2 separate regions of the Homo sapiens genome follow, and region 1 is linked to region 2. A link means that fine-mapping ties the variant in region 2 to the expression of a gene that starts in the linked region. Tissue or cell type: whole blood. Region 2 holds a variant in brackets; the other region holds the start of a gene. All regions are shown on one strand. Distances are from middle to middle.

Evidence for each region. PIP is the estimated chance that this variant, and not a neighbour inherited with it, causes the effect.
Region 1: it holds the start of CAP1, and the variant in region 2 is fine-mapped to the expression of CAP1 in whole blood (TOPMed, PIP 0.98).

Annotation. Positions count from the first base shown.
Region 1 is chr1:40,035,764-40,043,865 of GRCh38, reverse strand. It overlaps CAP1 (cyclase associated actin cytoskeleton regulatory protein 1), which reads right to left and starts at 3,137. Exons shown (of 13, transcript NM_006367.4): 1 at 3,065-3,137. It overlaps LOC105378669 (a long non-coding RNA gene), which reads left to right and starts at 3,420. Exons shown (of 3, transcript XR_001738013.3): 1 at 3,420-4,975; 2 at 5,715-5,769. RefSeq lists enhancers at 2,838-2,927, 2,998-3,197, 2,851-3,485, 3,448-3,517, 3,486-4,119.
Region 2 is chr1:40,007,271-40,015,374 of GRCh38, reverse strand. It overlaps LOC105378669 (a long non-coding RNA gene), which reads left to right. Exons shown (of 3, transcript XR_001738013.3): 3 at 306-1,470. Among named protein-coding and RNA genes, the nearest start is that of CAP1, 29 kb to the left of the region's middle. The variant G/A (reference allele first, on the strand shown) is at 3,412.

The DNA.
Region 1 (8,102 bases), 28 kb before region 2:
TCTCACTATCACCCAGGCTGGAGTGCAGCAGTGCAATCTCAGCTCACTGCAACCTCCGCCTCCCGGGTTCAAGCGAGTCTCCTGCCTCAGCCTCCCAAGTAGCTGGGACTACAGGCATGCACAACCACGCCCAGCTAATTTTTGTATTTTTAGTAGTGATGGTGTTTCACCATGTTGGCTAGGATGGTCTTGAACTCCTGATCTCAAGTGATTTGCCCACCTCAGCCTCCCAAAGTGTCAGGATTACAGGCGTGAGTCACTGTGCCCAGCCCAGAAATTTCTTTATGCTGGACCTGGGCAAATCAATTAGCAAACTGCCACCCACAAAATCAAATCCAAACAAATTCAACAAGGCATTAAAAGCCCTTCACGCCGGGTGCGGAGGCTCACACCTGTAATCACAACACTTTGGGAGGGCGAGGCAGGCGGATCACGAGGTCAGGAGTTCGAAACCAGCCTGGCCAGCATGGTAAAATCCCGTCTCTACTAAAAATACAAAAATTAGCCGGGCGTGGTGGCGCACGCCTGTAATCCCAGTTTCTCAGGAGGCTGAGGCAGGAGAATTCCTTGAACCTGGGAGGTGGAGGTTTCAGTGACCCGAGATTGTGCCACTGCACACCAGCCTGGGCAACAGAGCAAGACTCCGTCTCAAAACAAACAAACAAACAAAAAGCCCTTCACAACTTGGCCGACATCTAACCTTTTTTGCAGTCTGGTCTTCTGCAAAACTCCAGGCCCCAGTATCACTGAACAATTTAGGCCCTCTCCTGCCTCCGTATCTTTACTCTTGCTCTTTCCTTTAGCTGACCCACCTTATTAGACATCTTTGCCTGGATGTGCTACAAACACCTCAAACTAAAAACATTCAAAATGCATTTTTTCCCATGTCACTTCCCTAATTTACCTCTCATACTCTCTATCTGAATGGTACTACCCATTCAGTTCCCTAAGCCAGAAAGCCAGGCAATCGCGCTATTCTTACCTCTTCATTCCCATAATCAGCCTCCAATTCTATGGATTCTATCTTCTTAATATTGCTCACATCTGATGCCTCCTCTCCATTCCCATTTCCACTGTCTTAGTTCAGGCCATGTCTACAGCAAGAGCTTCCAAACACTGTTTTACTTCCCCACAGGGCTGGTCCCCTCCTACTTGACAGAATGAACTTTCTGAAATATAAATCTGACGACATCATTTTCCTGCATAAAACCCTTCAAAGCATCTCCATAGCTTTCAGGGTAAAAATCCAAATTCCTTAGCATGACTTACAATGTCCTCCACATATGACTGACCTGACCACATCTCACTTCCTCCACTTCCCCAGCCATTACTAGAATTCCAGTCACACTGAACTCGTCATGGTCTTTCAGCTGTCCGGTTCTCCAGGTCCTTGCACCTGTAGTAGTCTCTGCCTGGAAATCCCTTTTCCGGATTCCCTATGTAGCTAAATAAATATTTCAAGAGTTAGCCTCCCATTTCCTCCTGGAACCCTGGGCACCTGGCTCAGGTATTTCTCCACTGTGCTCTTGTAGCCCTGTGCTATGCACTATGACACTGTAAGCCATCCCTCATTTACTTGTCTATTTCCTCTCCCACTGTAAACTCCAGAAGAACTGTATTCTTTGCCACAAAGGCTATCTCATTAAAATGTGCCTCATACATATTAAGGTCTTAATAAACGTCTGGTGGGGCCGGGCACGGTGGATCATGCCCGTAATCCCAGCACTTTGGGAGGCCGAGGTGGGGGGATCACCTGAGGTTAGGAGTTCGAGAGCAGCCTGGCCTTCACGGCGAAACCCCATCTCTACTAAAAATACAAATAAATAAATTAAATAAAAGTCTGGTAAATGATAAATGTGCTGATATGCCCCCGGATTTTCTCTTGAAGAGAGAGCCCCACAAAGAGCTTCAACTGACACAGTTCTGATGCTAACCTGTCTCAAATGTTCTCATTCCACTCTTCGAACGCATTCCTATTTATCCTTCAAAATTCATCTTAAAAACTCTGCTTCTTCAGAAGGGCTTTTCCTGAACCCCCTGTTACATACTTTCAGAGCACCCTGTTCTTTCCTAACACTCATCAACATTTATAATTACTTCTTAAACATCCCTGCAAACACTGCTAGCTCCACGCGGGCAGGGTCTACATTGTTTTGTTTTAAAGCTGCATTCCCCGCATCTGGGAAAATGCTGGCACAGAATAAACACAATTTGTTACGCTGAATTTAATCTTGTGGGGTCAGCAGAGATCTCCACTTAAAAGATGAACAAAAGGAGGCTGAAAGAAGTTTAAGGCACCTATGGCCACAGACACTCAGCACTGAGGCCAGACCAAACCTGAGCCGTCTGATTTCAGGTCCAGAAGTACATACCTTCAATGTTAGCCTGGCTTGTCAAAGTAAGAGCAGCAGCCGAGGAGGAAAGGGAGGATATCTGCCTGTAAATACAAGGATGTGCCCGCCTTTCTTTTAAAAACTCCCTAGGCATTTCAAACGGCTCAATTTGGGAGGAGAGAAAAAAAAAAGTTCCACGCAGCGCTGGCCTTTAACCTGCAGCAGCCTGCGGGGCAACACCGACCGGAAGACCATCCCAAGTTAGAGAGGTTCCGAGCAACACGGGAAGAACTGGGGCTGGTTATCTAAGGCACCAGGATCATGATTCCGATTCTTTTCCTCACTCGCTATATATCTCAGACTAGCCTCTTCTCTAGGGATCAATTTACCTATCAGTGCAATGGGAGCATCAACAGGAGACAGGGAAGACTCTCCGATCTCGGAGGTTCCTTCCAGTCAGAGCACCTCAGGAATCAGGCCTCCGCTGAAGCTGATGGGCAGCGCTGCGAAATCGGGCAGAGGGGCCTCCCCGGGGCACCCGGACTCAGCTGCTCACCCCGGCCCCACCTCAAGAGACCGCGCCCAAGAGTCCGGGTCGGCCTGAGGGCCTCAGCCCCGGCCCTCTCGGCAGGGTTCATGACACGCGCGTAGGCCAGAAGGGCCATTAACACCACCAGGGGCCGATGGGCCCCGGAAGGGACCCCAATCCCTACCAAGCTGCACACCCTCACCTCAGAGTTCCGCCTCACCTCCGGACTGCGATCAGCCGCTCTCCGCTTCCGGCAAGAACCGCCCAGCAATCTCCGCGCGACCCACTTCCGGGCCCTCACTGGGCGCGGCGCCCCCACCGGAAATGAGCCGCCGGCTGAAGCGCTAGGCTGGCCCGCGACTGGGCAGGAAGTCTCACCGCCCCGCTCGTGACTCCGCCCCTCTTCGCCACGCCCCGGAGAGAGCGGCCCGGCTCTCACAGAGGGCACTTGGGAAAGAGCCCCGCCCTCAAGGCGGGAGCGACACGGGGAGGGCGGGCTCACAAGAGAGGCCACGCCCTCGTTCCGCTTTACCTACCCGGAATCGCCCCCGAGGCCCGGGCCCAGGAAGGGCAGAAGTCCCTGGCTAAGCTCCTCTCTGGAAAGAACAGAAGAGTGACCAGTTCCTCTGTCAGTTTGGTCTCAATGGCAGAGGCCGGTTCCTTTAAGCTGCAGTCCGTAAAGGGTCTTGGAACGACTGGGGGCCAGGATTCTCTGAGGGCGGGAATCCGGGCGGCCGTCAGCTCTCGGTGGTGATCGAGGCCACGCTCCGCCTGTCTCTGGGCGTGCATACCTCGGTTTCCCCGTTTGTGACGTGGGAAGGCAATTAGTCTGGACATTGTTGTGGGAGGACTTGCGGAGACTGGGCGCAGGGCGTGGGGGTCAGTGAGGGCGCGGTGGGTCAGCCCCAGCCCGGCTGGCAGTCGCGGGGCTGGGAAGGTAGGGAACCCTCCGCTCTCACCCCACTTCCTGTTTGGTCGGTGTGTTCTGTGACCATAGATGGTCAAGTCTGGGGCCGCGCGGAAGCCTCCGCCCTGTGGTTTTGGAGCCCTTCCTCCCGGCGCGCAGGGTGTGGTCCCCGAGAATAAGATGAGCAGAATTAAAGCAGATCCTGCACCCACTCTGCTGAAATCCGGCTTCTGAGGCAGCCTCGCCCAGGGCTGGGTGGGCTCAGGCGGCTGCTACTCGGTTCAGGGGAGGTTACGCACGGTGGCTGCCGCGCGCAGGGGAGGCTTCGCTTCCGTACTCCTTGGGCCGGGAGATCCGATCTTTGTTCCCTCAAGACTCACACTCTCCAACCGGTCATTATCCTCCCACAAAGATTTATTTCTAGAAAAAATTGGCAAGTGCCACAGTTCCCGCCCCTTCAGCTGAACGACTGTGACAGCTCCGTGTTTCAAGTTGAATGCAGGCGTTATGTGCCAGAGTCAATCATTCAACAAATAAAGTTCTTAAAATAACAGCTACCATTTACTGCACGCTGACTACTTGCCAGGCCCATGCTGAGTTCTTCAAGCGTATTTTCATTTACTCCTAATAGCAACTCTCGGTGGTAGGTACCATTATGCCCTCTAGTTTTCAAATGAGGAAGCTGAATAACTTGCCAAGGTCAGAAAGTAACTGTTGAAACTTTGAAGGAAACACATCTGTCTGACTCTAAATCCCATGAGCTTAATTAGCCCCTGTGATAGACCATACTGCAGACATTTGAGGCAGATTTGAGGTGGTGAATGCCTCTGGATCTGGAGACACTGGGTTCCAGTGCTGGCATAGGCCCTCTACTAGGGGTCAGACTTTGGTCAGGTTACTTTGGACGGGTTACTGGGCCTCTTCCTAACTTTATGGCTCCCAGCATGTTTAAAAGAACATGACAACATGAAAAAATATGGTATAAAAGTCATAGTATATTTTAAATATTGACATTTAACTAAAAACACTGTCTCACACACACACAAACTCTAACTTTATTTGGACATAATCTTTGACTCTGCATTTAGTTATTCTAAATCTCTTTCTGGATTAGAGACAGAAGGAACATAGACCATACACGCATTCTAGAGGAAGAGGAGAGAGAAGAGGAAGCAGGAAGGAGAATGAAGAAAGTTTCCTCATCAGGTGGGGAATATTAATGGGGCTGTAATGAGAAACGGAAGCAGTAATGTATGTGAAACCACTTTGTAAAATGCTTCATTATAAAGAATGCACACACGACTTAAGTTACAACCCCTGCCCTAAGGAATGTCCAGTCTTTTAAGAAGTCTAGATCCATGCATTTGTAACTCCAGTAGGAGATGGGAAGATAGTTTAAGAATATCCGTCACATGAAGGGCTGGGCGCGGTGGCTCACACCTGTAATCCCAGCATTTTGGGAGGCCGAGGCGGGCAGATAACGAGGTCAAGAGATCAAGACCAGCCTGGCCAATATGGTGAAACCCCGTCTCTACTAAAAAATACAAAAATTAGCTGGGCGTGGTGGCATGCGCCTGTAGTCCCAGCTATTTGGGAGGCTGAGGCAGGAGAATCGCTTGAACCCGGGAGGCAGAGGTTGCAGTAAGCTGAGATCGTGCTTCTCTACTCTAGCCTGGCGACAGAGTGAGACTCTGTCTCAAAAAAATAAATAAAAGAATATCTGTCACATGTATTTATGCACTGAAAAAAAACTATTGAGCTACATAGTAGCAATTATTGGAAGAGTTCAATAATTGCTATGCTACTTTGTACCAAGCACAACTAGGGATCCAGCAGTGGACAAGTCAGACCCTGTTACTGCTCTCATGGAGCTTACAGTCTATTTTGGAAATGATATTTCCATTTGGAGTGGTCATCAGAAGATACGCTGCCTTCTGTCTTCCAGCTTTTTCCTCCTCGCTGATCTTGCCCCTTGTCCAGTACCCAGTGCTTCATCCATGGTGAGTTCTCATCTAGCACATGTTCAGTGAGTGCCTTGAATTCAGAATAGTCATTTCCTAGGCAGAGATGGACAGATAGATCCTTGCAGAGCAAACATGAATGAACAGTAGTGGAGATGGGAATCTGTGCTGGACTGAGGTGAGAGGTTCCTGCAGGAGAAAAGTAGGAGATAAGGCTGAAGAAAAGGAGGTTGAGCAAACTATGCTAGGCAAGAGAGGTCAAACCTTAATGTGAAAGCGAGGAGGCACTAGTCATACTGTATTTTAGAAATAAAAATCTAGCTACAGTGTAGGGCATGGCCTTCAGTGGGCAACAAAAGAGGCAGGGAGAACTGCTAGAAGATAAGCACAAAGATCTAATAAGAATCTGAATCGGCCAGGCGCGGTGGTTCACACCTGTAATCCCAGCATTTTGGGAGGCCGAGGTGGGCGGATCACCTGAGGTCAGGAGTTCGAGACCAGCCTGGCCAACATGGCGAAACCTCATCTCGACTAAAAATACAAAAATTAGCCAGGCATGGTGGTGGGCACCTGTAGTCCCAGCTACGTGGCCGTAAACCCAGCTACTCGAATCTGCTGAGGCAGGAGAATCACTTGAACCCAGGAGGTGGAGGTTGCAGTGAGCTGAGATCACGCCACTGCACTCCAGCCTGGGTGACACAGCAAGACTCCGTCTCAGAAAAAAAAGAAAGAAAAAGAAAGAAATTTGTATTATTTATAAATTACCCAGTCTAGGTATTTTGTTATAGCAGCAGGAATGAATTAAGACACATTCTCATTCAATACTGCTTTTCCTTCCTGGCAGGTATTACAATCCTCATTCATTATTTGTGCACTTATCTTTTAATAGCTTCCTCTCCTGTAAGTTGCTTCCTCCCAATAAGTCCTTGTTTGTCTGGCACAAAATTGATAATAAGTATTTATAGTAAAAATTGACTAAATGAAAAGGGTGAGAGGGGCCAAGTTGGCTCTGAGACTTGGCATGTGGGGAAATGGAAGGTGTAAAAAGGATTGGATCTGGGTTTGGGGGTTTTGAGCCTCAGTCCTCAAAATCCAGCCTGGGAAGAGAAGGAGAAGAAAGAATTCAATTAATCAATTTACAAGCAAGAATTGCCAGCAGAGAGTTGATTGATTCTCACACATTCCCCCTCTTCATGTATTATTGCCACTTTCTTATGGCCTGGATTTCAGCACATTCTGAACCTGCAGAATCACTTTGTCTCTGAGGGAGCCACCCAAGTTTCCTCTTTATCTCTCAGGGTTTCAGACACAGAAGTCTGGCGGTTCATCTGGAGCCTTTCCCAGCCTGACTCAGAGGACTGCCTGCATCTGTGCAACCTGGCTCAGAGCCTGTCTACGTTTGGGCAGAGCCTATATCCCCCTGCCAAACGGGCTAATGACAGACAACAGTCTATGTGACCCTATCTTTCTTCCCCTCCAAGGGTATGGCCCCAGATTTCAGCCTCAGATAGGGGATCAGGCCCAAAAATTAGGAGTTGGCAAAAGAAATAGCCGCAATATAGAAATATGATTAAGATCTGGCTTTGGGGTCACTCTGAAACTGAATCCCAACTCTGCCAACTGTGTGATCTTGGAGTTATCCTCATTTAACCTCAGAGGATATATTAATAGCCGTCTTAAATGGTTGATAGGAATTAGGACAGAAAACTAATAAAACACTTGGCTCACAGTAAACACTCAATGAGTAGTAACAATTATTATTAAGTATAGAGAATCTCTTGTCTGTTTCCCTGGCAAAGGCCATCAGAAAGCAAAATAAGGTCTAAAGTGTCAACATACTGGATGGTGCCACCAGAACTACTACTACTGTCCCCATCCCCAGAAAGTTTTCCCACAGTTCCTGCTTCTTTGTATTGCTAACTTTTTTTTTCTTTTTTTTTTTTTGAGACAGAGTCCTGCTCTATCACCCAGACTGGAGTGCAGTGGCATGATCTCAGCTCACTGCAACCTCCACCTCCCAGGTTCAAGCGATTCTCCTGCCCCAGCCTCCAGAGTAGCTGGGATTATAGGCACACACCACCATGCCAGGCTAATTTTTGTATTTTTAGTGAAGGGGGGTTTCACAACATTGGTCAGGCTGGTCTCAAACTCCTGACCATGTGATCTGCCCGCCTGAGCCTCCCAAAGTGCTGGGATTACAGGTGTGAGCCACCGTACCCGGCCTTCTTTTTTTTTTTTTTTTTTAAGACAGAATCTTGCTCTTAGCCAGGCTGGAGTGCAGTGGTATAATCATAACTCACTGCAGCCTTTAACTCCTGGATTCAAGTGATCCTCCCACCTCAGCCTCCGGAGGAGTACCTGGGACTACAGGC
Region 2 (8,104 bases):
TGCCCGCTTGAGGTTACCAAGGTTTGAATCAGTATACTCTAAATTCTGAATGTATATGGATGATGACTAAATAAGCGCAGGTCATATCTGAATCAGCCTACCCAGTCCATAGTATCCAATATACATAGCATGATTCCCTAAAAATGTTATTATATATTAGTATATGCATACCAAAAAAAGGTGGAGGACTTTGCTATAAACTATTGACAGAGTTGTTGGTGAGAAATGTGTGGCAGAGACTGGCCAAAAGTTCAACAAATCTGTTTCCTCTTCCGCCTGGCCACTCATCAGCTTACATTTCTCAGTCTCTCTTGCAGATAACTATGGCCGTGTGCCTGAGATCTGGCCAATGGAATCGTGGACAGTTCTCCATGCTCTTTCTCCTTCTGTGGCAACTCTGAATGTCGTGTGTTCAAGATGAAGACAGAAGATAGAATGACCTTGGGTCTCTGAATCATTGCTTGGAGAAGAGCAATTTACTGATCAGTGGTGTGAAAATAAGTAATTCAAAATCTAAGCTATTGGGCCAGGTGCAGTGGCTCACGCCTGTAACCCCAGCACTTTGGGAAACCAAGGCAGGTGGATCATTTGAGGTCAGGAGTTCGAGACCAGCCTGGCCAACAGGGTGAAACCCCGTCGCTACTAAAAATACAAAAAATTAGCCGGGCATGGTGGCATACGCCTGTGGCCCCAGCTACTTGGGAGGCTAGGGCACGAGAAACACTTAAGCCCAGGAGGCGGAAGTTGCAGTGAGCCAAGACTGCACCACTGCATGCTAGCCTGGGCAAGAGAGCAAGACTCTGCCTCAAAAAAAAAAAAAAAAAGAAAAAAATCTAAGCTGTTGGAACATTAAATTATTTTGAGCTTTAAAGAAATGTGTTTATGAGACTTGAGTCATGTGACAGGCAGCTGTAACCTAGGAAACTGTAAACATTTTTTCTCTGATTATAGATTAGCCTCCTTCCTTATCTACATAATTTTGTAAAATGTTGTAAATGACTAAAGGGTACTTCCCTTTAGTCCCACTTCACTGCTGATCTTCATTGCAGATTAACTTCCTTCCTACCTCTCTCACACAAAGCCTTCATGACTGTTACATTATATACTCTTTTAAATTAGAAAATAAATGAAACCAAGCCACAAGGAAAAGAAAACAAATTAACTAATTGAATTGTTTTAATTCATAAACCAGCTTTGTATAAGAAATAATCCTGTTAAATTTCTTTGTTTTCTTCCTTTATAAACAAGACCTTAACTTTTGACATCAGAGCACGGACCCCATTTCACTGACCCCATTTTCACGGAATAAACGCCTTAAAAAAATTTTTTTAATAGAAACAGAGTCTCACTTTGATGCCCAGTCTAGTCTTGAACTCCTGGCTTTAAGCAATTCTCCTTCTTGGTCTGCCAAAGTGCTGGAATTACTGGTGTGAGCCACTGTGCCCAGCCTGAATAAACTCTTTAAAAATGGGTGCTGATCCTTTTGATTCTTTCATGTTGATAGGGGCAAAATTCTGTTTTAGATTTCACTGGTAAAAGATAAAATCTTATCTTATTAGGCATTTGAGATGTTAGGATTGATCTGTTAAACTGCTAGCATTACATTAATCCCTACAATAGGGTTATAGGAAACTGCAACTTTCTACATTTTACATTTAGATACTGTTTGCATTTTGCAGAGCTTTACATTGCATATTTATAATCAGCATTGTATGCAATATAGATTTTTAAAAATTATGTTTCAAAATTTATAGCCAGCTTTTTCTCCTTGTCCTCTGAGTAATTCTTTTGCTTAACATTTTGGTGGAAAATGCAAAGCTGGGTGGTGTTACCAAAACGCTTGTTGCCCAAGGTCTATAAATATAGAAATCAGTTTGCTATCATTTCTGGGTTTTTTAATTGAAATATAACTCACATACTATAAAATTCACCCTTTTCAGCGTACAATTCAGTGGTTTTTAGTATATTTACAAGGTTGTGCAAATATCACCACTATCAAATTCCAGAAATTTTTCATTACCCCAAAAAGAAGCTCCATACCCATTAGCAGTCATTCCCTGTTCCTCTCACCCCACAAGCACTGATCTACTTTCTGTCTCTATGAGTTAGCCTACTCTGTACATTTCATACAAGTGGAATCATTAAAAGGTGGCCTTTCATGTTTGGCTTCTTTCACTAAGCATAATGTCTTCAAGGTTCGTCCATGGTGCAGCATATATCAGTACTCTCTTTTTGGCTGTATAATATTTTATTTGTGAATATACCACATTTTGTTTATCCATTTATCAGTTGATAGACATTTGGGTTGTTTTATGAATAATGCTGCTATGAACTTTTTTTAACGTAATTTTTAATTTTCTTTGAGACAGAGTCTTGCTTTGCTGCCCAGGCTGGAGTGCAGTGGTGCAATCTTGGCTCACTGTAACCTCCACCTCCCAGGCTCATGTGATTCTCATGCCTCAGCCTCCTGAGTAACTGAGATTAAAGGCTTGCACCAGCACGCCTGGCTAATTTTTGTAGTTTTAGTAGAGACAGGGTTTCGCCATGTTGGCCAGGCTGGTTTGAACTCCTGGGCCTATGTTATCTGCATACCTCTGCCTCCTAAAGTGCTAGAATTACAGGGGTGAGCCACTGCACCCAACCTGCTATGAACATTCTTTTTTTTTTTTTTTTTTTTTGAGATGGAATCTCGCTGTTGCCCAGGCTGCAGTGCAGTGGCACAATCTTGGCTCACTGCAACCTCCCTCTCCCAGGTTCCAGCAATTCTCCTGCCTCAGTCTCCCAAGTAGCTGGGATTACAGGCACATACCACCATACCTGGCTAATTTTTGAATTTTTAGTAGAGACGGGGTTTCACCATGTTGGCCGGGCTTGTCTTGAACTCCTGACCTCAGGTGATCCGCCCTCCTCGGCCTGTCAAAGTGCTGGGATTACAGGCGTGAGCCACTACACGGGACCTGAACATTCTTAACAAGACTTTTTTTTTTTTTTTTTAAATGATCGTAGGCCAGGCGCGGTGGCTCAGGCCTGTAATCCCAGCACTTTGGGAGGCCAAGGCGGGTGGATGACGAGGCCAGGAGATCGAGACCATCCTGACTAACACAGTGAAACCTCGTCTCTACTAAAAATGCAAAAAATGAGTCGGGCGTGGTGGCGGGCGCCTGTAGTCCCAGCTACTCGAGAGGCTGAGGCTGGAGAATGGCGTGAACTTGGGAGGCGGAGCTTGCAGTGAGCCGAGATCTCGCCACTGCACTCCAGCCTGGGCGACAGAGCCAGACTCCATCTCAAATAAAATTTAAAAAAAAAAAGATCGTTTGCTTTTTATTGATACAAAATATTTTATGTATTTATGGGGTACATGTATTTGTTACATAAATAGAACATGTTTTGATTAGCCGGGCGTGGTGGCAC[G/A]CGCCTGTAGTCCCAGCTACTGGGGAGGCTGAGGCAGGAGAATCGCTTGCAACCGGGAGGTGGAGGTTGCAATGAACCAAGATCGTGACACTGCATTCCAGCCTGGGCGACAGAGCAAGACTCCATCTCAAAAAAAAAAAAAAAAAAAAAAAAAGAACATGTAATGATCAAGGCAAGGTATTGGAGGCATGTATCACTTTGACTTTTATCATTTATCATTTCTATGTGTTGATAACATTTCAAGTCCTCTCTTCTAACTACTTTGAGATACACTATACAGTGTTGCTAACTACAGTCACCCTACTCTGCTATTAAATATTGGGACTTATTTGTTCTATCTAACTGTGTGTTTGTACCCACTAATCAATATCTCTTTATTCCCCCTTCCCACCCACATACTCCTCCCAGCCTCTAGTATCTATCATTCTATTCTCTATCTCTATGAGACCAATTTTTTAGCTCCCACATATGAGCGAGAGCATGTGGCATCTATCTTTCCATGCCTGGTCTCTTTCATTTAACATAATAACCTCCAGTTCCACCCATGTTCCTGCAAATGACACAATTTTATTCTTTTTTATGGCCGTATAGTATTCCATTTTGTATATATGCCATTTTTTTTATCCGTTAGTCCATTGATGGACACCTAGGTTGATTCTGTATCTTGGCTATTGTGAGTAGTCCTGCAATAAGTATGCAAGTGCAGGTATCCCTTTGATATACTGATTTCTTTTCCTTTGGATAAATACCCAGTAGTGTGATTGCTGGATTATATGGTAGTTATATTTTTAGCTTTTTGAGAAATTTCCATACTGTTTTCATTAACTGTGGTACTAATTTACATTCCCACCAACGGTGTATAAGAGATCCCTTTTCTCTTTATTTTGGCCAGCATCTGTTGCTTTTATCTTTTTATAGTAGTCATTATGGGTCAGACGAGGTGGATAATGTCTATAATCCCAGCATATTTGGAGGCTGAGGTGAGAGAATCACCTGAGCCCAGGATTTTGAGACCAGCCTGGGTGACACAGTGCCACTCCATCTCTTTTCTTGTTGTTGTTTTGAGACAGAGTCTCACTCTGTCATCCAGCCTGGTGTGCAATGGTGTGATCTCAATTTACTGCAACTTCCGTCTCTCAGGTTCAAGCAATTCTCCTGCCTTGGCCTCCCAAGTAGCTGGGATTACAGGTACGTGCCACAACACTCGGCTAATTTTTTGTATTTTCAGTAGAGATGGGGTTTCACCATGTTGGCCAGGCTGGTCTTGAACACCTGACCTCAGGTGATCTGCCCACTTCGGCCTCCCAAAGTGCTGGGATTACAGGAGTGAACCACCACACCCAGCCAAGACTCCATCTCTACAAAAACATTAAAAATTAGCCAGGTGTGGTGACTCATACCTGTAGTCTCAGCTATTTGGGAGGCTAAGGTGGGAGAATCACTTGAGCTAGGGAGGTCAAGGCTGCTGTGAGCCATGATTGTGCCACTGCACTTCAGCCTGGGTGACAGAGCGAGACCCTATCTCAAAAAATAAAATAAAATAAAAAAGCCGGGCACGGTGGCTCACGCCTGTAATCCCAGCATGTTGGGAGGCCGAGGCAGGCGGATCACGAGGTCAGGTGGATCATGAGGTCAGGAGTTCAAGACCAGCATGACCAACATGGTGAAACCCCATCTCTACTAAAAAATACAAAAAATTAGCCAGGTGTGGTGGCACACGCCTGTAATCCCAGCTACTCAGGAGGCTGAGGCAAGACAATTGCCCAGGAGGTGGAGACTGCAGTGAGCCGAGATTGCACCTTTGCACTCCAGCCTGGGAGACAGAGGGAGACTCTGTTTCAAAAAAAACCTTTTTTTTTGTAATTAAAAAAAAAATAATAGCCATTCTCAGGCATGGTGGCTCACATCTGTAATCCCAGTGCTTTGGGAGGTTGAGGCAGGAGGATCGCTTGAGGCCAAAAGTTGAAGAGAAGCTGGGCAACATAGTAAGATCCCATCTCTACAAAAATTTTAAAAATATTGGTTACATAAAGAAGTGGAAATTAATTGATTGGGCATTTGTTGAGGGAAGGATAGACAGATGAATAAAAGATATGGGACAGGAAAGAACTGACTTTTGCTGTATTTTATGTTTTCTTTAACATATAATCCATTAATATCCTGTTATTGAAGCAAGGTAATTATTACACCACCAGCACCACACACACATACATAAACACACGAGCGTTAAAGTCATTAGGGAAATGCAAATTAAAACCACAATGAAATGTCACCCCACACCCACTAGGATGGCTACAATTTAAAAAAAAAAAAACAGACAATAACAAGTGTTGGAGAGATTGTGGAGAAATTGAAACCCCCATACGTTGATGGTAGGGATGTAAAATGGTGCAGCCACTGTGGAAAATAGTTTGGTACTTCCTCAAAAAGTTAAACATAGAATTTCCATAAGGCCCATATGATCCAGTCATTCTTTATTATTATTTTATTATTCTTATTTTTTTGAGACAGAGTTTCCCTCTGTCACCCAGGCTGGAGTGCAGTGGTGCAGTCTTGGCTCACTGCAACCTCTGCCACCCAGAGGTTCAAGCAATTTTCATGCCTCAGCCCCCCACGTAGCCAGGATTTCAGGCAAGCACCACCATGCCCAGCTAATTTTAGTATTTTTAGTAGAGATGGGGTTTTGCCATGTTGGCCAGGCTGGTCTCGAATGCTTGAGCTCAAGTGATCCGCCCACCTCGGCCCCCCAAAGGGTGGGATTACAGACATGAGCCACTGCCCCGGCCGTGACCCAGTCATTTTACTCCCAGGTGTATACTCAAGAAAATTGAAAACAAATGTTCATACAAAAGCTTATATACCATATTTGCAAACTATTCATCCAACAAGGGATTAATATCCAGAATATACGAGGAACTCAAACAACTCAACCATAAAAAATAAATAATCCCATTAAAAAGTGGGCTAAGGATATAAATAGTTATTTCAAAAGAAGACATACAAATGACCAACAGGTATATGAAATAAATGCTCAGCATCACTAAACATCAAGGAAATGCAAATCAAAACCACAATGAGATATCATTGTATCCAAAAAGGAATGATTGTCATCATGATTATGATTATTATTGTTATTCTAAGAGACAGGCTCTTGCTCCATTGCCCAGGCTAGAATACAATGGCATGACCATAGCTCACTGTAGTTCAAGCAATCCTCCCACCTCAGCCGCCGCAGTAGTTAGGACTACAGGCATGCACCACCACACCTGGCCAATATTTTAAAATTTTTTTCTAGAGATGGGATCTTGCTATGTTGCCCAGCTGCTCTCCAACTTTTGGCCTCAAGCAATCCTCCTGCTTCGGACCCCCAAAGCATGGGATTGCAGATGTGAGCCACCATGCCTGAGAATGGCTATTACTTTTTATTTTATTTTATTTTTTGAGATAGGGTCTCGCTCTGTCACCCAGGCTGAAGTGCAGTGGCACAATCATAGCTCAAAGCATGGGATTGCAGATGTGAGCCACCATGCCTGAGAATGGCTATTACTTTTTATTTTATTTTATTTTTTGAGATAGGGTCTCGCTCTGTCACCCAGGCTGAAGTGCAGTGGCACAATCATAGCTCACAGCAGCCTTGACCTCCCTGGCTCAAGTGATTCTCCCACCTTAGCCTCCCAAGTAGCTAGGACTACAGGCATGAGCCACCACACCTGGCTAATTTTTTTTATTATTATTATACTTTAAGTTCTAGGGTACATGTGCACAATGTGCAGGTTTGTTACATATGTATACATGTGCCATGTTGGTGTGCTGCACCCATTAACTCGTCATTTACATTAGGTATATCTCCTAATGCTATCCCTCCCCCCTCACCCCACCCCACGACAGGCCCCAGTGTGTGATGTTCCCCTTCCTGTGTCCAGGTGTTCTCATTGTTCAATTCCCACCTATGAGTGAGAACATGAGGTGTTTGGATTTTTGTCCTTGTGATAGTTTGCTGAGAATGATGGTTTCCAGCTTCATCCATATCCCTACAAAGGACATGAACTCATCCTTTTTATGGCTGCATAGTATTCCATGGTGTATATATGCACACCTGGCTAATTTTTAATGTTTTTGTAGAGATGGAGTCTCAGCCGGGTGAGGTGGCTCAAGCCTGTAATCCCAGTGCTCTGGGAGGCTGAGGCAGGAGGATCACTTGAGGCCAAAAGTTGGAGAGCAGCTGGGCAACATAGCAAGATCCCATCTCTAGAAAAATTTTTAAAATATTGGCCAGGTGTGGTAGTGCATGCCTGTAGTCCTAGCTACTGGGGCGGCTGAGGTGGGAGGATTGCTTGAACTCAGGAGTTAAAGGCTACAGTGAGCTATGGTCATTCCATTGCACTCTAGCCTGGGCAATGGAGCAAGAGCCTGTCTCTTAGAATAACAATAATAATCATAATCATGATGACAATCGTTCCTTTTTGGGTACAATGATATCTCATTGTGGTTTTGATTTGCATTTCCTTGATGTTTAGTGATGCTGAGCATTTATTTCAAATACCTGTTGGTCATTTGTATGTCTTCTTTTGAAATATCTATTTATATCCTTAGCCCACTTTTTAATGGGATTATTTATTTTTTATGGTTGAGTTGTTTGAGTTCCTCGTATATTCTGGATATTAATCCCTTGTTGGATGAATAGTTTGCAAAT